Linked DNA regions of Homo sapiens. The protein of the gene in region 3 purifies or fractionates together with the protein of the main gene of each other region. This does not show direct contact. Each region holds a gene or a part of one and is shown on either strand. Other genes may lie near its edges.

Evidence for each region.
Region 1: the proteins of SDHAF4 (region 3) and TMLHE purify together in Homo sapiens (affinity purification with mass spectrometry; one large-scale study listed by BioGRID and IntAct). This does not show direct contact.
Region 2: the proteins of SDHAF4 (region 3) and NLN fractionate together in Homo sapiens (co-fractionation; one large-scale study listed by BioGRID). This does not show direct contact.
Region 4: the proteins of SDHAF4 (region 3) and PPTC7 purify together in Homo sapiens (co-immunoprecipitation; one large-scale study listed by IntAct). This does not show direct contact.

The regions. Positions count from the first base shown.
Region 1 is NC_000023.11:155,504,285-155,509,939, forward strand, and holds part of TMLHE (trimethyllysine dioxygenase, mitochondrial isoform 1 precursor), read right to left. Parts: exon of another isoform or gene 5,554-5,655; intron 2,851-5,553; coding exon 2,614-2,850; intron 1-2,613. UniProt on the Homo sapiens protein: Converts trimethyllysine (TML) into hydroxytrimethyllysine (HTML).
Region 2 is NC_000005.10:65,724,514-65,730,168, forward strand, and holds part of NLN (neurolysin, mitochondrial), read left to right. Parts: intron 1-5,655. UniProt on the Homo sapiens protein: Hydrolyzes oligopeptides such as neurotensin, bradykinin and dynorphin A. Acts as a regulator of cannabinoid signaling pathway by mediating degradation of hemopressin, an antagonist peptide of the cannabinoid receptor CNR1.
Region 3 is NC_000006.12:70,579,150-70,584,804, forward strand, and holds part of SDHAF4 (succinate dehydrogenase assembly factor 4, mitochondrial precursor), read left to right. Parts: intron 1-264; coding exon 265-417; intron 418-5,655. UniProt on the Homo sapiens protein: Plays an essential role in the assembly of succinate dehydrogenase (SDH), an enzyme complex (also referred to as respiratory complex II) that is a component of both the tricarboxylic acid (TCA) cycle and the mitochondrial electron transport chain, and which couples the oxidation of succinate to fumarate with the reduction of ubiquinone (coenzyme Q) to ubiquinol.
Region 4 is NC_000012.12:110,572,655-110,578,309, forward strand, and holds part of PPTC7 (protein phosphatase PTC7 homolog), read right to left. Parts: intron 1-5,655. UniProt on the Homo sapiens protein: Protein phosphatase that plays an essential role in mitochondrial metabolism and biogenesis. Positively regulates biosynthesis of the ubiquinone, coenzyme Q. Dephosphorylates the ubiquinone biosynthesis protein COQ7 which is likely to lead to its activation.

The DNA.
Region 1 (5,655 bases), on a different chromosome or scaffold from region 3:
TGTAAGAAATCTGCACTTGTACCCTCTAAATCCATTTTTAAAATCGAAAAATATCACCGTAAGATACCGCTTCACAGCCACTGGAATGACTATTATAAGCAAACAAAGCAAAGAGCAAACAAGTTTTGGTAGGGCCTGGTGGGAGGTGTTTTCATCATGGGGGCAGGTCCTTCATGGGTGGCTTGGTACCACTCTCATAGTAATGAGTGAGTTCTCCCTCTGAATTCATTGCAAGAGTTGGTCGTTTAAAAGAGTGTGGCATGTCCTTGGAACAGCTACAATTCATACATTGTTGATGACAGTGTAAAATGGTACAAGTACTTTGGTAAAACTTGTTGCAGTTATTTATGAAACTAAGCATTCACCTACTCTATGACCCAGCAGTTCCACTCCTAGGTATTTACCTTAGTGAAATGAAAATGAAAACATATTAAAAAAAACACTTTTACATGAATGTTCACAGCAACTTTATTCATAATAACCTGAAACTGGAAAGAGTCCAGATGTGTATTCATAAAAGAAGAGATAAACAGAACAGGCAAAAATCTAATCTATAGTGGTAAAAGAAAATCAAACTGTGGGTTCCTCTGAGATGTATGTGCAGAAGTATGAGAGTACTTCCTGTAGTGATAGTAATATTTTATATCTTGATAAGGGTTTGGGTTAAATAGGTATATGCATTGGTCAAAACTCAGTGAGTGTATATTTAATATTTTAAACATCATTGCATATACATTGTAACTTTAAAAAGCTGTAAGCAAATATTGAACTCTACTTAATGATATAAATGTTGAAGTATTAGGGAGATATGTACTGATATCTGCAATGTATTATACTTTAAAATTCACTGAAAATAAGATTAACTGATGAATGAATAGATGGGAAGATAGGTGATAAAGCAAGTATAGAAATATCTTAATGGTAGAATCTAGATGTAAGTCTATGGCTTTTCTGTGTTAAATGTTTTCAACTTTTCTATATGTTTAGAAATGTTCATAATAAAATGTTGGGAAAATAGAGTTACTACTCATTGTTTTAGGCACTTAGATATATGAGAGATAACAGAGGGAGAGTTTCCCAGAGGAACTTATCCAAGGGAAGTAAATTAATATTTACACAGTTCCTCCTACAAGCCAGGGGTAAAGGTAAGGATAACAATTTATTTTTAACTTCACAACAAGTGGGCACAGAAGGTATTATTATTGTAACTGGAAACTCATGACTAGCAGGTTAAGTAACTTGTCCAAGGCCAAAAATCAATAAATGGCAGACAGGATTTCACACTGAACTCCTTCTGATTACAAAGCCTGTACTCTTTGTAGTATGTCAAGTTTTGCAGCTATCTTCACCCTGCCTCTTCACCCCATATCTCCTTCCCTGCTTTTTTGTTTTTCCCTAGTACTTATCACAATTTGATATATTATATATTTGCTTATTTATTTTTAATTACTCTGTCGTCACTATAATGAGAATTCCAAGATGGCCAGGAATTTTTGTCTATTGTGCCTACAGTTTCATCTGCAGTGTCAAGAACAGAGCATGACTCTTGGTAGATGCTCATGAAATATTTGCTGAGTAAACTGAATTAATGCACAGTAACAGTTTGCTTGGAATAAGCAGAAGCAGGAGCGGTAATCCATCTGCAAAAATGCATAGTAAAAAGCTTGGCTGCAAGATGCAAAATAATGGGCTCCAGAAACCCAAAGCAGTTTGGAATAGCTAGGGAAGAATGTATGGAAAACATGAATTACATGCTAGAAGAGTAAGAAGGGATCAGATCATACAGAACCTTAAAAGCCATAAGGAAGGACTCTAGTCTTTCTCTGAAAGACACTGGGGAGGTTTAGAAGGATCTTAACATGGGAGCAGAAGATAAGACTCAGCATGAAAAATTAATGGAAGAGGGCTCACAATGGAAGCAAGGACATCAGTTACAACTTTAGCCATGGGAAAGAAAAGTGTTCTCACTGCAAGAAGAGGCATTGTAGATAGAAAGCAGGGGATAGTTTGAGAAAAATATAGGAGATTGAGTTGATAAGACTGGTTGTGTAATATAAGGGAGAGGGAAAAATTAAATATGATGTTTGGTTTATGGCTTGGGAAACTTAGTGGATGGTGGTACCATTCAATGAAAATGGGAAAACAAGTGGAGAAGTAGGTTTAAAATGAGTAGAAGTGATGAGTTCACGTTTGAATATGATATGTTTTATATTCTACAAAATATCTAAGTTGTGATATCAGTAGTCAATTGAATACACAGGTCAAGAGCTTTGCATAAATCTGGGCTGGATACATAAATGTTGTTGGGTAACCTAGCTGTTTGGTCACTGAGGATAATTTAATAACTCTTTTTCATTTAATAATGTTTTCATTTAAAAAATACTACCTCTAATATTTGACCCCACCCCTAAAATAAACCTAGTATTCTTTGGTTGGTGGCTATTTACTATTCCATGGGAATTATAAGAAGAATACAAACTGTTTGATAATAAAAAGCTATAGAATAGCAAGATTAAAATGTAGCAGATATAAGAATCTTAGGGATTTTTGTTACATTAGAAGGCTAATCTTTGGCAAATATATTACAGTTGGGGATAGTTCTTTGATACTCACCTGATCAAATACAGCTCTTTATTCCATGGGTAGATATTTAAGACTGGCCCAATCCCAATCATGTGGTTGTGACATTCTCCAACATCTTCAATATATTCATGCTTCAATGGCACTTTACTGAGGAGTTCAAATTCCTCAGGTGCCTTTTGAAGTACCTGTTCTGCTGCATAGAATCCATCTACTAGCAGTGTCCTGCCACCAGTTCCTTCATGTTTAAGACAATGAAACACTTGAATGCTAAAGAGAGAAAAGAAAATTCTTCTGTTCAGTGGAAGAGAGAACATATCAAAATTCTAGAAATTATATATAAAATGATTACTGAAACTACTTGTCATTTTCTTTTCATTTCCTAATTGGAAATCTCATTTCTTAATTGTTTTTCTCTCATAGGCAGTTGTACTTTTTTGTGTTTTGAAATATTAATGCCACTAGAGGTTTCTTCTAAACATATCTAACATATATTGAAGCTTATATGTGCTGGGCCCTGGGAATACAGGCATGAATAATATATAACCTATATTTTCAAGAAGCTCATAGTCTAGTAAGAAGAACTAAAGCAAATAAATACCAAATAAAATATGATAGGTACTATAATAAAGTTGCATACAAGATATAGTGGGGTCATAAACAAAGGAATGATCTGTTCTAGCGGGGTGTTGTATAAAGAAATGTTTTGGAGAAGAATGAAAATTGTTTTGACTAATCTTAAAGAATGAGCAAGAATTGGAGTAGAAGGAGATTGAGATGAGGAGAAGGCATTCTAGGCGGAGAGAAAGCATGACCAAAGATACCAATGTAAAACAACAAGGAGTAAGAAGTTCCTATTGGCATAGCACAGAGAACCACAAAATGATTTTAAACTGTGAAACTCTACGGCCATATCAATATTTTAAAGAGTCCATTATGTTGATAGTGTGGAACATGGACTGGTGAGAAGCAACGTGACAAAAAACTTGGAAACCAACTTGAACAACTGAAATAGTAAAGAAAAATATTGAGAGCTTGAACTCAGAAAGGGGCGTTATAGAGAAGAAGACACACCTGAGAGATACCGAGATAGAAGTAGCAGAATTTGATAACTGAAGGATAGGCAAGAATCTAGAATAACTCCAGGTTTCTCACTTGGGCACCTGAAAAATGATAATGCTATTTACTAAGACCGAGATTACAGACAGATATGCTGTTGAATGATAATGAGGAAGTATGAGAGGTTGAGGAAGGAGTTCAGTTTAGAGGCATGTTAGAACAGCTAATCATATACAGTTTCTGAATATGTTAACAGGGAAAGGTAAGGTGACTATTAATTGACTGGAAAACTAAGGTAGAATTTTCAAACTTATGAGGGAAAATAAAATTAATAGTAATTTAATCAAATATGCAAAACTAAGAAAAAGTAAAAAGCAAATTAAAATAAGAAATAAACAAAAATATGGAGTAAAATCAAGGACAATCTAATATAATATAAATACAATTAAAAAGAGAAAGGTAAGCCTGGCCATATTGAAATTTCTGTGAAACTTCTAGGTCAGGGTTATTTAGTTACCAGTTAAAGATGTTTAAGGAAGAGAGGTGGATTTTGTTACAAGTGATAGCTAAAGCCAAGAGCATGGAAGAGGTCGTTTGGAGAGATCATTTCAAGTAAGAAAAGAGGGATAAGGAGAAAACCTTGAGGAAGAATAATATTTAGGAAATAGACAAAAGAAGCCAGCAAAGGAGGCTGAGGAAAAATGGTCAGATATATAGGAAGAAAACTAGGAAAGAAGGAATATTTAAGAAATTTAGTAGTGGTTAATGGTATGTCTCAGGGATCAAGTAAGATGACAGTACACACTGGATATGACAATTAGTTGCTGGTGACGTTAGAGAGAGTAACTTTAATTGCGGTGAGGGGTGGGTTGGGAAAACTAGATGCCTATGGGTTTGAGGAGTAAATGGGAAGTGAGAATGAAAATATATTGAATGTAGCTATTATTCTTTTAATAATCTTAGCCATGAAGTGGAAGAAAAAAACATGGCTGTAGCTAAACGGAGATAGAGTCCAAGGAAGTACAAAAATAGAGAATTAAGATATGGGAGGCTGATAAGAAGGAGTCAATAGGTATGGAAAGGCTGAAGATAGAGGAGAGAGAAATCCCCAAGGAAGCTGGAAAGGATGAGATCCAGAGCAAAGATAGCTTTAGAGAGAGTAAAGCATATAACAATGAAGATAGTGATTAAAATGAATAAAATGATGAAAATTATAGCTAATATTTATTGAACACTTAGTTTGTGTCAGGCAGTATGATCATATAATTTAATTCCTTAGCAATGCTAATGGATAGGTTAGTTTGTGTCAGGCAATATGATCATATAATTTAATTCCTTAGCAATGCTAATGGATAGGTTTTATATTACTAGTCCCATTTTACAGATGAGGAAACTGAAGTACAGAGAAATTAAGTTACTTGTCCAAGATCACAAATCTAATACATGTTGAGGCTGGAATGCAAATCTGGGTCTGGTTGATGCCATAGCCTGAACTCTTAAGTGCTATTACCATACTGCTAATTTACTTGGTCCTTGCCATTGATTACAAACAATTAAACTAAAGCCACAAACAGTTGTTTATCTCTGGTGTTGGTCATAAAGGGAAGAGCTAGTCAGTATTTGAACCTCAACCCCTGTACAGCTGCTTCTTATCTCATTTCCTCTTTTTTCCTTCTGTATCCACTAGAATGAGGATGCAGGGTTGTTGATCTCTCCATATATTGATAACATTTATCAGGATATCTAAAAGCTGCTTTGTTCTTCCTTCCCTGAATCAAACATTCTTAAGTTATAAACCCTTAAAGGAAATCAGTGTAACCATGAGCAATTGCATATTATCATCCTCTCATATAGTCTCCATAAATCTATGTGCACTCATTTTACTCATATCTTTGTGTCTCAGGCTCACCATCTAAATGCAGAAGCAAGATCAAGAACACGGAATAACCACAGAGGTGCCTCTACTGAAGAGCAAATGGTAGGAAAATTGAGTATAGTATGTATCATCTTTGGTTC
Region 2 (5,655 bases), on a different chromosome or scaffold from region 3:
TTTGGCTATTGTGAATACTACTACTATGATCATTAATGTGCACATGTCTGTTTGAATCCCTGCTTTTAATTCTTTGGGATACTGTATGTACCTAGAAGTGAAAATTGCTGAGTCATAGGATAGTACTATGTTTAGTTTTTGAAACCATACTGTTTTCTTCAGTGGCTGTACCATTTTTACATTCCCATTGGCAGTACCTAAGGATTCCAATTTCTCCACATCATCATCAGCACTTATTTCCTGGTTTTGATAACAGTTATCCTAGGAGTGGCATTGTTTCTTTTTTTTTTCTTTTTTTTTTTTTTTGAGACAGAGTCTCTCTCTGTCGCCCAGGCTGGAATGCAGTGGCGCTATCTCGGCTCACTGCAAGCGCCGCCTCCCGGGTTCACGCCATTCCCCTGCCTCAGCCTCCCAAGTAGCTGGGACTACAGGCGCCCGCAACCACGCCCGGCTAATTTTTTTTTTTTATTTTTAGTAGAGACGGGGTTTCATCCTGTTAGCCAGGATGGTCTCGATCTCCTGACCTCGTGATCCGCCTGTCTCGGCCTCCCAAAGTGCTGGGATTACAGGCGTGAGCCACTGCGCCCGGCAGAAGTGGCACTGTTTCGCATTTTTGCAAAACTAATGTGTGACATAATAGAAGGTAACTGGATTCTTATGTCTGCCTCTGCATTTAAGCTGCTGCACTGTTTCATTTTGGTTTAAGATGAAGAAAATCCCACCTCACAGTCATATGAAGTTGGAAAGAAGAATATTTTAATAGCTTTTTAAAGATAATCATGGATGTTCTTTGATATCACATCAAAGTTTGACAAATCGTAGCTTTTTAAAGGTTAGTTACAAAGTGGAATTTGAAACTATATCAATGTACTTGTTTTACACTGTTACATTAATATCCAATGGTGTACCTTACACTTTGAATGGATGTTGAATCCATGCCTGTTTTTTAAAACATTAAGCATAAGTCCTTCGGAAATTTTAGTGGTTCACTGTGTTATACAGTTCTTCCTAATGTTGACATATTTCATTATACAGTATCAAACAATCACTTTCCTTAATGTCTTCCTATTTAGTCGGAAAAGTCTTCAAGTATTGGGAAGCTGTCAAGCTCACAGTGGCAGATAGGATTTTCCAAAATTCTAGTTTTCACTTGAAAGCTAGAATTTTATCATTGGTAACACAAACTGTCAGTTGTTTTACTTGAAGTGACAATCTCACTTTGTTACATTTTTGACAGAATTTCTGCCACATACTTAAGTCTGAATAACCCTGGTTTGTCTGTCAGTAGTTTTTTTCTGGTAAAAATGGTGTTCCATGGGCTGGGCACGGTGGCTCACGCCTGTAATCCCAGCACTTTGGGAGGCCATGGCAGGTGGATCACGAAGTCAGGAGATCGAGACCATCCTGGCTAACACGGTGAAACCCTGTCTCTACTGAAAATACAAAAAATTAGCCGGGCGTGGTGGCGGGCGCCTGTAGTCCCAACTACTCGGGAGGCTGAGGCAGGAGAATGGCGTGAACCCGGAAGGTGGAGTTTGCAGTGCGCCGAGATTGTGCCACTGCACTCCAGCCTGGGCGACAGAGCGAGACTCCGTCTCAAAAAAAAAAAAAAAAAAATGGTTTTCCATGAAAAAAATCTATTTCAGCTCACAGTTCAACCAATTGCAAAAGTGCTTTTGATTTGGGCAACCAAATCCTCAGGACAACCCTTATACTCAGGTACACAGCAGAAATGCTTTGTGTGTACTTGGTCACATATAACTCAAAGGTAGAGATTTAATAAAAATTCATACTTTTTACCATTTCATTAAGGATATTCTAAAATGAAATTGACATTATTTTTAGCCTGAGTGCATGGCAATGAAAAATATAGCTACTAGTATAGTTTGGTGTCATTGCCTCAATTTGTGCTGAAGTACCAACAGTATTATCCACCATTCCTTTTCGCCATCAGTGCAAATGTTCATAAAGTAAAAAGGATAAATAATGTCTTAGTATTGTTATGAAAGATTTTTAACCTCACAGATTCCTTGAAAGTGTCTCAGGAACCCCTCCCCATACCTCTACCTTTAAGGTTTGTGGACTACATTTTGAGAGCTGCCGATATGTGGTATTAGATTCTTTGTTTATGCATGGAAGAAAATAAATATACTAATAGCCAAAAAATTATTACCTTGTTAGAAGCTACCATAAATATATTAACTAATTTGTTACATAAGGGCATATCTTACAGTTAATCATCATATATGGTAGTCCTTAACCCAGGGCTTCCTTGACTTAATCACAGAATCTGCTCTGTTTCAAAATCAGTATCTTCCAAAAGAGTTCATATTAGACAACATGGAGGACCCCCTGTGTTCTCCTGTTTTTCCTGTTTCCTCTGACACTTGGGAGTTCATTTTAGTGTTATGGAGTAACTAGGCTTTTGCCTAACTGACTTACAGTTTCCATTGGGTTTTCTTGTTGGCAGAGCTGCTATATCCCCTTCCCAAGGCCAGCTTCCAGCTAGGATCATTGATTGGGGTGTTCAGCCAACTTCTTGGGAATAAGTGGACTGAGAATCTGGAGTTTGGATTATAGTTGCTGTTCAATTCACTTTGTGACCTTAAAAAAATCACTCACTCCCTTGGACCTCTTTCAAGTTATGTACCTATGTATGTATGTATTTTAGAGACAAGGTCTCACTCTGTCATCCAGGCTGAAGTGCAGTGGGGCATGATCATGGCTCACTGCGGTCTCAAACTCTGGTTTCAAACAATCCTCCCTGCCTCAGCCTTCTGAGTAGCTGGGACTACAGGCGCTCACCACCATGCCCAGCTAATTTGAAAAAATTGTTTGTAGAGATAGGATCTTGCTATGTTGCCGAGGCTAGTCTAGAATTCCTGGCCACAAATGATCCTCCCATCTCAACCTCTGAAAGTGCTGGGATTACAGGAGTGTACTATCATGCCTGGCCCAGGTTCCTTATATTGTAAAATGAAAAGGACTAGACTAAATAATAGCTAAGGCCTTAAAAAAAAAACAAAAAGCAAAAAACCTCTATATTGCCATAGCAAACCAGGAGAATTCCTCCTCCTACCTCAGATTGTACAGCATGTGACCCAAGCAAAGCCTAATGTATATTATAGAATAAGAGGGATGAGTGACATGGTCAAAGAAACAAACGAGAAGGTTGACTCAACAATATTTAGCCGAAACAATAGCTGTAATAGCCTAGCTTCCTCTTGCAATTAGAAAAGACAGCTTGGTTTGTTTTTTGGTTTTTGTTTTTTTGAGACAGTCTCGCTCTGTTGCCCAGGCTGGAATACAGTGGCATGATCTCGGCTCACTGCAACCTCTGCCTTCTGGGTTCAAGCAATTATCCTGCCTCAGGCTCCTGAGTGGCTGGGATTACAGGTCCCCACAACCACGCCTGGCTGATTTTTTGTATTTTTAGTAGAGCTGGGGTTTCACTATGTGGGCCTGGCTGGTCTTGAACTCCTGACCTCAAGTGATCTGCCCACCTCAGCTTCCTAAAGTGCTGGGATTATAGGCGTGAGCCACTGCACCTGGCCTAAAAAACACAGCTTGGTTTTTTAAAATGATGACAGCAATGCGTGTTCATTATTGAAAACTTAGCAAGTAATGACAAGCAAAAGAAAATATTAAATATATATATAATCCAGCCACCTGGAACAGCCAATTCTTAACAGCTTTCAAAATTTCCTCTATGAACAGACTTTCTTTTTATAAATATGATATTGTTATTCTTTTATAATTTTTAATATTATACAAACATCCCCTAAAATATAAATAGCTATAATATATTCCTTTTGGGGATGTATGCAATTTGATTAATATACGCCTTTAGAAATGTCAACTATTCCCAACTTCCTGCAATGAGTAATAGTGCTTGGATAAACATTCCTATTGTCCTTTTCCAAATCTTTAGTTATTTTCTTAGTATAAATTCTTACAAATGGAATTTGTACATCAAAGGGCATGCATACCTTTCAGGTCTTTGGTACTTATCATCTTATTCTATTCTAAAAACTTTCTCCCAAATTATAACCTTACCAGGTGAGTAAGTAAATGCTGGTTTCCTATACTGTTACCAACATTGAGCATTTTAATTTTTTTTATCCTTACCAGTTTGATAAGTGGAAATTTCTCTTATTATAATTTGCATTTTCATACATTTTTGGAAGGTTTATTCAGTGAGTATAATTCCTAAACAAAAATTCAGGAGTTGTGGTCTGGAAACCAAAAAGTTATTTGTTGTCTGATGTGAAAATTTATTTATATGGAAAATCTTAGAAAGTCAGACAAATTCAATTACAGTTTTCTTGGTGTTTTTGTTTGTTTGTTTGAGACAGAGTCTCACTTGGTTGCCCAGGCTAGAGTGCAGTGGCATGATCATGGCTCACTGCAGCCTCGACCTCCCGGGCTCAAACGATCCTCCCACTTCAGCCTCCCGAGTAGCTGGGACTACAGGTGTTTGCCACCACACCCGGCTAATCTTTGTATTTCTTGTAGAGACAGGGCTTCGCCATGTTGCCCAAGCTGGTCTCTAATTCCTGGGCTCGAGTGATCTGCCCGCCTCAACCTTCCAGAGTGCTGGGATTACAGGCATGAGCTACTGGGCCCAGCCTAAATTACAGTTATTAATAAACTTAACAATATTTACAGGTCTAAGTGTAATTAAATAAAATTGAGATTATTCCTCTAAAACCAGTAGGCATAATCTCCAAAATGTTAAGAGAACAGTATTGGGGAAAAAAATCTAGTAAAGAAAGGGTTTTTTAAGTTAAAGTATCAAGAGCTAGGTTGACATTATTTGTACAAATGGATTTGGTTATAAAATAGGTTTTCTTTTCTTTTTTTTTTTTTTTTTTTTTTTAGGATGGAGTCTTGCACTGTTGCCCGGGCTGGAGTGCAGTGGCACGATCTTGGATCACTGCAACCTCCGCCTCCTGGGTTCAAGTGATTCTCCTGCCTCAGCCTCCGGAGTAGCTGGGATTACAGGCACCTGCCACCACGCCCAGCTAATATTTTGTATTTTTAGCAGAGACGGGGTTTTACCATGTTGGCTAGGCTGGTCTCGAACTCCTGATCTCATGATTCACCCGCGTCGGCCTCCCAAAGTGCTGGGATTACAGGCGTGAACCACCGTGCTCCGCCGAGGATTGATTTCTTTCTTTTTTGTTTGTCCTTTAACCCTGGTTTTGGTCAGAAGCAACCTGGTTCTTTCTCAGAGTTAAACATTATCACCTCTTTGGTTAAGACAAAGCACAGGACTTACTTGGGAAGAATCCCCTGAATTAAAGATATGAAGAACCAAGGAAACTGATGTGTATTGAATACATATGTAAATGCCAAGCTGCCGCATTGCAAAGTGCATGTAGCATCATAGAGTCGACTATATAAATCTAGAAACAGCTCGCCTGAGTTTGAATGCTGGTTTTGCCACTGACTAGCATTGTGATCTTAGGCAAGAATACTTAAGTTCTCCGTATCTGTTTCCTCCTCAGTAAATTGATAATTGATTGGCTGATTTCTTCATTCACCAAATATTTATTGTCTATTATATGCGAAATAGTATTCTTGGTCTGGGGATATAGCAATGAACAAAGCAGATAAAAATCTTTGCATTAATGGAACTTACATTCCAGTGGG
Region 3 (5,655 bases):
GGAATTAATGTTTTAATATAAGTTTCTGCAATATTGATAACAATTAACTAATTTATTTCATAGCCCTTCTTTTCAAACTGGTGGTCTTCCAGGAAGGGAAATGGCTGGAGAGGAAGGAAGAATTTTCACTCTGCGTCCTTTTGTACTTTTTGAACTTTGAGAAATGTGAATGTATAAACTAAAAACAAATAAATAAAATTTTATAAATGTTTAAAGTGGAATAAATGAACAGCTCCTATTTTTCTATTATCTCCACTCTTCTAGGATCACCCCTTCTGTGTCATTCTCTGAGGAAAACAAGTTCTTCTCAAGGAGGAAAGTCTGAACTTGTCAAACAGTCCCTTAAGAAGCCGAAGTTACCAGAAGGTCGTTTTGATGCACCAGAGGATTCCCATTTAGAGAAAGAACCACTGGAAAGTAAGTATAATAAAGCACCTCTCAGTTTTTGAAGTATCAAGGAAAGTGTTTTAGTTATTGAGAAAATGAGTGAAAGGAAAGAAATTTGTTATTGCTTAAATTCTGTAGTAATAAAGCATATTTCAACAATGAGTAAAATCACCATATTGACCATCGATACATGTAGATTTCTTAATAAAAAAGATTTTCAAGATTCTGACAGGTATTTGATTGTGTTTGTTTTATTTGTTATACCTCATTATTCACATAACAAAATATATAAGTTGAGACCTTCTTTGTTACAAATAAATGATGTTATTTGTATCAAAGAAGGTTATGTTATTTGTATCAAAGATCTTATGTGAATAATGAGGTATAATAAATATAACCACTTTATATATGTAATGTACACATATTATATATAAAGGACTCCAATAACTCAACGAAAAGTCAAAAATAGCAAAGCACTTGAGTCTTAACTTATATATTTTGCTATATGAATAATGAGGTATGATAAATAAATAACAAATATATGTGTATATTATATGTATGTGTGTGTGTGTGTAGAACTCCAGTAATCTACAAAAAATAAAAATAAAAAATAGCAAAGTATTTGAGTAGACATTTCTCCAGAGAAGGTATACAAATGTACAAATGGCCAACAAACACATGAAAAGATGCTCAGCATCAGCATCATTATCATTAGGGAAATGCAAATCAAAACTATGAGATACTACTTCATACCCACTAGGATGGCTATAATAGAAAAAAATGGAAAATAACAAGTGTTGGGAAGGATGTGGAGAAATTGAAACCCTCAGGCATTTCTGCTGGGAATGTAAAATGTTGCAGCCACTGTGGAAAACAGTATGGCCGTTCCTCAAAAAATCAAACTTAGAACTACCGTTTGACCCAGCAGTTCCACTCTTAGGTGTGTATCTAAAGGAATTGAAAGCAGGGACTTGAACAGATATCTCTGTAACTATGTTCATAGTATTATTAACAGTAGCCAAAAGGTGGAAACAACCCAATGTTCACAAACAAATGAATCATTAAACAAAATGTGGCATATACATCCGGTGGAAAACTATTCAGTCATAAAAAGCAATTAAATTTTAATATATGCTACAACATGGATGGACCTTGAAAACATTATGTTTAGTGAAATAAGCTGGACCCAGAAGGGCAAATATATGATTCCACTTATATAAGGTACCTAGAATAGGCAAATTCATAGAGACAGAAAGTAGAATAGAGGCTATCAGGGACTCCGGGGACTAAGGGAGAAGTCATTGTTTAGTGGGTACAGAGTTCATTGTGGGGATGATGAAAATGTTTTAGGTATAGATAGTGGTGATGGTTGTACAACCTTGTGAATATATTTTTGTTGTTGTTTTTGTTTTTGAAATGGAGTCTCACTCTTTCACCTAGGCTGGAGTGCAGTGGCACACTCTCGGCTCACTGCAACCTCCGCCTCCCAGGTTCATGTAATACTCCTGTCTCAGCCTCCCGAGTAGCTGGGATTACAGGCACACCACCACACTGGCTCATTGTTGTATTTTTAGTAGAGATGGGGGTTTCACCATGTTGGCCAGGCTGGTCTTGAACTCCTGACCTCAAGTGACCAACCCCCCTCGGCCTCCCAAAGTGCTGGGATTACAGGCGTGAGCCACTGTGTCTGGCAGTGAATGTATTTAATACTACCAAATTGTACACTTACAAATGGTTAAATGAGAAATATTATGTTATATATATTTTACCACAGTAAAAAAAAAAGAAAGCAAAAACCTGCACTTTTCAAAAGCTAATCATCTATTTGACATAATGGTAGGCATTCAACGTAAGTCTTGTATCACTCAAGTTTATGTTGAACCTACCATCCCTTAGAAATTTCTGACAAACATCACCAAATACAGCAGGTACTCTTCAATCCTTGTTTTATTTGAACAATCCACAACCTTTGACAGTGTTAACTATTGCTTCTGGAAATCTCCTGCCTTGATTTCCATTATGCTTTCATTAGTTTCATTTTTGTGTGTGTATGTATGTGTGTGTGTGTTGTTTTGTTTTGTTTTGTTGAGACAGGGTCTTGCTCTGTTGCCCAGGCTAAAGTGCAGTGGCATGAACACATGGCTCACTGCAGCCTTAACCTTCCCAGCTCAAACTGTCCTCCTGCCTCAGTCTCCTGAGTAAGTGAGACCACAGGCACATACCACCATGCTCACCTAATTTAAAAAATTTTTTTGTAGAGATGAGGTCTTGCCATGTTACCCAGGCTGGCCTCAACTCCTGGGCTCAAGCAGTCCTTCTGCCTCGGCCTCCCAAAGTGCTGGGATTACAAGTATGAGCCACCATTCCTGGCATGCTTTCTTTAGTTTCTCACCCTATTTCTTCACCAGTTTCTTCCTGGGCTCCTTTTTGAGCTCCTCTGCCTCCGCCCAACACCTAAATGTGGGTATTTGCCAGGCCTCTGTTCTTAGCCCCCTAAGTATTCCAAGGGAGATTTCATATTTCCCTAAAATGATTAGATTTATTTGATTGATTGAGGCAGAGTCTCACTCTGTCACCCAGGCTGAAGTGCAGTGGCGCCATCACAGCTCACTGCACCCTCAACCTCCTGGGGTTCCCTACTCAGCCTCTCCTGTAACTGGGGCTACAGGCACGCACCACCACACCTGGCTAATTTTTCTATTTGTTTCTTTAAGAGATAGAGCTCAGTATGTTGCCCAGGCTGGTCTTGAACTCCTGGGCTCAAACGATCTTCCCACCTCAGCCTCCCAAAATGCTGAGATTACAGGCATGAGCCACCACGCCCGGCTTAAAATGATTTTAAATATCACCTATGTGTTGGTGATTCATACATTTATACCTCTAATCAGACCTCGTTCCTGAGCATCACTCTCCTGTCTCCATTTGCCTCCTGAGTATCTTTCTTTGCACATTCCAGAAGTCTCAAAATTAATATTTCTAAAACTAAAGTCATCGTGTACCCATTGTTCCAACTCACCTTCGGCCCTCCCACCTGCCTGATCTCATATCCTCCTCTTCCTTCGGGATTTCCAGTCCACCCCATCTACCAAGTCACCCAAGCCCGAAATCTGGGGATAATCTTTCACTCCTGCCTCTTCCTGTCTCCTGTGACTGATCACTAACCAAGTCCTGTTGCTTCTACCCTTTTAACATCTCTCAAATTTATTCCCTCTTACTCATCCTACCAGTAGGGCCCAAATTCAAGCTGTCTCTAGCTCCACTGGTCACCTAACAAGCCTCTCTGCTTCCTCGTTTCCTTCCTTCTAGTCTTGTCTCCCTGCCTCTAGTATGTACTTTATTCTAAGAAAACTGTGTAGGTTGTCTCCTTGAAAAGAGTAGATTTCATTATTAAGATCATAAAGGAAAATGTTTGTAGCTAGGCACCCTGCTTGACATAAAGATGAATAAGAAAGGAAGATGAGATAATGTAAATAACGATGAACAGGACATCATGTGGTAACTAGCATGAGAGATACACAAAAAGATCAGAGGAAAGTCGACAAAAGAGATAACGTTTGAGCTGGGGTCTAAGGAAAAATAATTTTTTGTTTTTTTGAGTTGGAGTCTCGCTCTGTCACCCAGGCTGGAGGACAATGGCGCAATTTCAGCTCACCGCAACCTCCGCCTCCCGGGTTCAAGCGATTCTCCTGCCTCAGCCTCCTGAGTAGCTGGGATTACAGGCGTCTGGCACCACACCTGGCTAATTTTTGTATTTTTAGTAGAAACGGGGTTTCACCATGTTGGTCAGGCTGGTCTCGAACTCCTGACCTCAGGTGATCCACCTGCCTTGGCCTTCCAAAGTGCTGAGGTTACAGGTGTGAGCCACCATGCCTGGCCGGAAAAGTAAAATTTTTATAAGTAGATAAGGTGTGGTGAGGAGACATTTCAAAATACCTGGAGAAAGCTATGGTCAAAGAGAAAGAGGCTGCAGAACATTAACACTTACAAGACACAGCTAATGGGCCTCTTTGGCTTCAGCATAAATTATATATATATTTGATTAATACAGGGTTGTCCAATCTCTTGGCTTCCCTGGGTCACATTGGAGGAAGAATTGTCTTAGGCCACACATAAAATACACTAACAACAGCTGATGAGCTAAACAAAAACAAAAACAAAACAAAACAAAAATCACACAAAAAAACTCAATGTTTTAAGAAAGTTTATGAATTTGTGTTGGGCCACATTCAAAGCCATCCTGGGCCACATGCAGCCCGTGGACTGTGGGTTAGACAGGCTTGGATTAATTGAATATAAAGCTAGACACACAGGTTCAGCTCAAATCTGGGAGGGCCTGAAATCCCAGGTTACAGTGTAAGGGCTTTATGCAGTGAGCAGTGAGGAAATGTATTTGGATAGAGGTTGTTTTAATTAGCTTTATTAAATATAGTCTGCATATGATAAAATTCACCCATGTTAAATATACAGTTGAGTGAGGTTGTTGTTGTTGTTGTTGTTGTTGTTGTTTGAGACGGAGTCTTGCTCTGTTGCCCAGGCTGGCTTGCAGTGGTATGATCTCGGCTCACTGCAACCTCTGCCTCGGGTTCAAGCGAGTCTCCTTCCTCAGCCTCCCTGGGATTACAGGCACCTGCCACCACACCCGGTTAATTTTTGTATTTTTAGTAGAGATGGGGTTTCACCATGTTAGCCAGGCTGGTCTCGAACTGCTGACCTCGTGATCCGCTCGCCTCGGCCTCCCACAGTGCTGGGGTTACAGGCATGAGCCACCACGCCTGGCTAGTGAGTTTTAACAAATGTTTACAGCCATGGAAACCACACAAAGTGTAAAATAGTTCTGTCCCCTAAAGAGGTACAAGGCAGTTCATCCTCTCCCCACCTCCTCCCAGCAACCATTGATCTGTTCTCTATCACTGTAGTTTTGCTTTTTCTAGGATTTTATATAAATGAAACTCTACAGTATGTAGTCTTTGGTGTCTGGTTCCTTTCACATAGTATAATGTGGAAGAGGGATTCTGTTGTATTAGTTCTAAAATGGGACACTGAGAGCAGGAACCAGGGTGGTAATGGTGAGAACAAAAAGTTTCAGAAAACTGCAGGCTATTATAAGGGCAAAAATTAGGTTAACAAATGTGAGGAAGAAGAGACATGGAAAGATACGAGGGTGTGGTCAGAAAGAAGAGTGCTCAAAAGAGTGTGGGATTTGGAGGAGGAACATACTCAAAAAATAATAAAGTCCAGTGGACAGCAGAAGTAGATACGAAAGTCATC
Region 4 (5,655 bases), on a different chromosome or scaffold from region 3:
CATTTTGTAGTCCTTAGGATTCATACCAACAATTCAATCCATTCTAGAACTTATTCACCTCAAAAACAACTATTTAGGAACCTAGTAAATTTATAAATTCTTAAGTGAGACAGACTCAAGATCAACAATAAGCTTGCTGATGAGAGCAATTTCACCACAGTTGGGAAAGTAATATATAACCTTTCTGGAGGACCTATCGTAATCTTTTTTAAGTTTTTATTTATTTATTTATTTATTTATTTTTGAGACGAGTCTCACTCTGTCACCCAGGCTGGAGTGCAGTGGCATGATCTCAGCTCACCGCAACCTCCGCCTCCCGGGTTCAAGTGATTCTCCTGCCTCAACCACCAGAGTAGCTGGGATTACAGGCGCCCGACACTACGCCCAGCTAATTTTTGTATTTTCAGTAGAGACGGGGTTTCACCATGTTGGCCAGGCTGCTCTCAAACTCCTGACCTCAAGTGATCCACCTACTTTGGCCTCCCAAAGTGTTGGGATTATAGGCGTGAGCCACCACGTCCGGCCCTATGGTCATCTTTATATCAAAGGCCTTGCAAATGCTCATAGGCTTTGACCCAGGAATTCCTCTTCAAGGAATTACCCTGAGGAAATATTCAGATGTAAAGAGATACTCATTCTAGTGTTATTTATAACAGAAAATTGGAAACAACCTAAATAACTACAAATAGAGGACTGGTTTAGTAACTGATGGGCTATACATGCAGGAGAATATGATGCAGTTATGCTTACCAGTATGGAAACATGCACTCCAGCATGCTTCTGGAGTCACACACTATTAAAAACTCCATTTGCACACTGTTGCAACTTTTTAAAAGCTTTACAGAGTAGGATGCATATTAATCCAACATGTATTCTGTTTTTTAATAACATGTATACAATTATATACACAAAGGCTAGAGGGAACCACAATGACTATAGCTTACTATAGCTGAGTTATGATTTATAGGTGTTTTATATGGTACTTTTCTGAAGATGTGTTACTTTTATAAGCACTAAACATCCATTTATTTAAAAGCACTACACAGGCCAGGCACGGTGGCTCACACCTGTAATCCCAGCACTTTGGGAGGCCGAGGCGGGCAGATTACTTGAGATTGGGAGTTCAAGACCAGCCTGACCAACATGGAGAAACCCCGTCTCTACTAAAAATACAAAATTAGTCGGGTGTGGTGGCACATGCCTGTAATCCCAGCTACTCGGGAGGCTGAGGCACGAGAATCGCTTGAACCCGGGAGGCGGAGGTTACGGTGAGCCGAGATTGTGCCATTGCATTCCAGCCTGGGCAACAAGAGCAAAACTCTGTCTCTAAATAAATAAATAAATAAATAAAGGCACTACACAGGCTGGGCACGTGGTTCATGCCTTAAATCCCAGTACTCTGGGAAGCTGAGGTGGGAGGATTGCTGGAGCCCAGGAATTTGAGACCAGCCCAAGCAACACAGAGAGACTCTGTCTCCACAATAATTAAAAAAAAAAAAAAAAAAAAAAAAAAAAAAAAATTAAAAGCATTAGACATGCAAGCAAGAGACCTAGGTTCAAGTCCCAATATAATACTAACTATACCACCCTTACTTGATGTGTCAGTTTTATAGATGAGGAAACAGATTCACATTAAGTGGAGATAAGAGCAGCAGCTTCGTAGTTACAAAGATTAAATAAGGTAAAACATAAAAATGCTTTGCAACTTCTAAGGCACTATATAAAGCACTAGAAGGATGGGAGAATCATGTTTTGTGTCAGATATGAAACAACTGGCTTAGAAAAAAAAAAGAATGAAGCATTTTTACTCCTTAAAGAAAAGCTTCTGTCCTTCCCCATTGCCCAATCCTCAACCCCCAATCCTGTTGGGGATTTTTCCTGTTAGAGATTTTATTCAAAAACATTTAGCATCTCTTTTCTTCTTTAAAAACTTTAAACTAAATTGAAAGAGCTGTGCCAGTTGTCAACTCAAGTTGAAATGAATAATAAGTCGTGTGTTAGCCTAATGCCCTCTGCAATAGGTCAGCTTTTACAAAAAGTCTTGATTTATGATATGCAATTTTGTGAACTGTTAGGAAACAAATTATTTTAGTTCTCAGGGAGACAGAAAACTCCCTATCAGATTATTATTATTATTATTTTGAGACAGAGACTGGCTCTATCATCCAGGCTGGAGTGCAGTGGCACGATCTCGGGTCACTGCAACCTCTGCTTCCCAGGTTCAAGCGATTCTCATGTCTCAGCCTCCCTAGTAGCTAGGATTACAGGCACTCGCCACCATGCCCGGCTTTTTTTTTTTTTTTTTTTAAACTTTTAGTGGAGATGGGGTTTCGTCATATTGGCCAGGCTGGTCTTGAACTTCTGACCTCAAATGATCCACCCGCCTTGGCCTCCCAAAGTTCTGGGATTATAGGTTGTGACCCACCGTGCCCGGCCCCTATCAGGTTTTTAAAATATATGACGACTCCCAAACAAGACAGACTCATAAATTTTATTACTAACAACAAAAATTAGGATCCAGGACATCACTTCTTAAAAAGAGATCAAAAGTTAACAACTAATTTTGAAAGGCAAACTCACATTATTTTTCATAAACTAAAACTTCCAGTTTGAAAAGTCAAATTTCTTTAGAAATAAAATACTGCTAACTTACTTTTGCAAAGCATTTTCCTAAAACTTCTGAACCTAAAGCCCCAGGCAAGACCTCTCTCTAAAAGGCATGGGAACATAAAATGAATTTGACATTTAGCTTGAACTTAACTTTAGCATTTGAGCTACTCAAAGGACATGGTTGTAGGTCACATTCTAACCCGGTGTAGTGCTTCTGGTGTCACACACTAGTACAAACTCCATTTGGATACTGTTGCAACAATTCAGGTTATGTATTGCCCAGTTTCACAAACCAGTGCTAAAGTTCAGGGTACAGCCTCCTCCCATGCAGCAACCCCACCTCAAAAAAAAAAAAAAAAAAAAAAAAAAAAGCTCCACAACAGCTTGCATCTGTAATCTACCTTCTGCTACAATTTAAAACCTCCTTAATAAACAGTTATGCTTCTAAAATTCAATTACTTGCACTACAAAAGGATTCAACCAGAATCCTTTACAGAGACTGTTAACAAATCAAGAGATAAACTGTAAGTTAGGAAAATTTTAAACTAAGCTAGAAAATCTCAAAAGATTTGTGAACAAAGGAAAAGTAGCTCTGAAGCTATAACAAATGAAGAAATGACTTCAAAAATAAAGGTACCTTAATAAGTAACTTATAAAACTGCAACACACCTATATAGCAAAATGAGAAAAATACCAAGGAACAGAAGTTTAAAAAGCAAACAGCAAACCTCCTCTATCCATCAACCCTGTAATCTTATGTATTACAGAATGAAAGACCACTCAGAATAGTCAGAAAGCCACTAGTCAATGGCTTCCTAAACCCTGCTATTTCATTAGTCCTAGATGGCTCTTTTACTAAATCCACTCACACTTCCTTATTAATATTCCACAATTTTCTCTTGGAAGCACACAGCTCATTATGAAATCAGGCATATTTAAAGTACTGATTGATCTCAGAATTTATATATTTGATTGCTGCAATTTTTAAAGTATTTTCCCTTATATAAAATAATTATATGTATATTAATATTATATAGCTACATAAAAAAACAGCTATATTCCTCACAAAGTTAAACAGGGTTACAATATGACCCAGCAATTCTACTCCTAGGTATATATCCCCTCAAATTAAAAACATGTCCATACAAAAGCTTGCACACAAATGTGCACAGCACTATTCACAATAGCCAAAAGTAGAAACAACTCGATGGCCATCAACAGATGAATGGATCAACAAAATGTGGTATATAAATATAATGGAACATTATTCAGTCATAAAAAGGGAGGAAGTACTGACACATGCTCCAACATGGATGAACTCTGAAAACATGCTAAGGGAAAACATGCTAAGGAAAAGGCCACATATTACACGATCCATTTGTATGAAATGTCTCAAACACAAATCCACAGACAGAATCTGCTTTCTGTTGCCAGGGAGATGGGGAGTGACTGCTAATGGATAGGGGGTTTCTTGGGGGGTGATGAAAAACATTCTGGAACTAGATAGTGGCAGTGGCTGTACAACTTTGTGAATGTAAAAACTACTGAACTGTACACTTTAAAAGGATACATGCTATGGAATGTGAATTATACATATCAGTTTTTAAAAATTCACTCAAGGGGCTGGGCACGTGGTTCACGCCTGTAATCCCAGCACTTTGGGAGGCCAAGGCAGGTGGATCACCTGAGGTCAGGAGTTCGAGACTAGCCTGGCCAACATGGTGAAACCCCGTCTCTACTAAAAATATAAAAATTGGCCAGGTGTAATGGTGGGTGCCTGTAATCCCAGCTACTTGGGAGGCTGAGGCAGAAGAACTGTTTGAACCCAGGAGGCAGAGGTTGCAGTGAGCCAAGATCGCGCCACTGCTCTCCAGCCTGGGCACAAGGGCGAGACTCTGTCTCAAAAAAAAAAAAAAAAAAAAAATTCACTCAGGGTCATATTTGCTATCAACAGGTAGATGATGCTGGAATCTGACTTTAAGAAAATTATGGCATGTCCTGCACATGTATCCTGGAATTTAAAAAAAGTAAAATTAAAAAAAAAAAGAAAAAAAAATTATGGTAATATAATGAGAGTGGTGTCCTGACATGGCTTGAAATCTAGCTGAGGAAAATTCCAACAAGGACTTCTTGAAAGACTGAAGTCAGTGGGTGCACACACACACTCTGAAGGTGACTACTTTTTTAAAAGGACAACTCACTTTCAGAATAGAGGTTCTATAAGTACATTAAAATGATCATGACTGTTTGAAAACACCAAATTCTACCTCATCCATTCACTTCCTAAATATAATTTAGATCTTAATTTTGTTCATATGATCTTTACACCTCAAGACAACTACTTTTAAGACTGACATTACTCACAAAAACACTTCAAAATCCTGACCACGATCAAAATCAGATCCAAAGGCTGGGATATGAAATTATTTTAATTTCACTTTTAGGTTTCAAGTTTAAGCTTAAATAAACATCCCACAGTTTCATAATAAATACTTTACAACTCAATATTCAGAGGTCAAAATTTATATGGCACAGACCAGGCTGCCATTTTTAAAATAAGTGGTTTCTCTAAACTGTGGTTTAGCATGCAGAGGAGTTTTTGTTGCACATCAGTTATGAGTCAGAGTGAATAAAGAAGTTATAAACACACACACACACACACCCAGGAAAAGCATTCGAAGCACAAAAGTATCAGGAGACTGACTGGTTTTTAATTCACATATATCATCAAGAAAACTTGACCAGTGGTCTAACGGGGACAGGACTGGGAAAGGGAGTCTCAGATGAGAGACTGAGATAGGTGTCAGCCTCAGTTCCACCAATAACTAGTAGAGTAACCTTGGGGAAGTCATCTGACTCTCTGGAGGCCTGTTTTCTCATCAGTGAGGTGAAAAAAACTAGACTCCAAGGTTTCTAAGTGTTACAATTCTCAACAGTCTTTGATTCTATTGTTAAGTAGCATAAGGCTGTGGGAAGCCCAGGTATTACAACATGCAGTTCTCATATTTTTGTGCACCTAGGAAGCCATGCCACGTAGAGTAATAA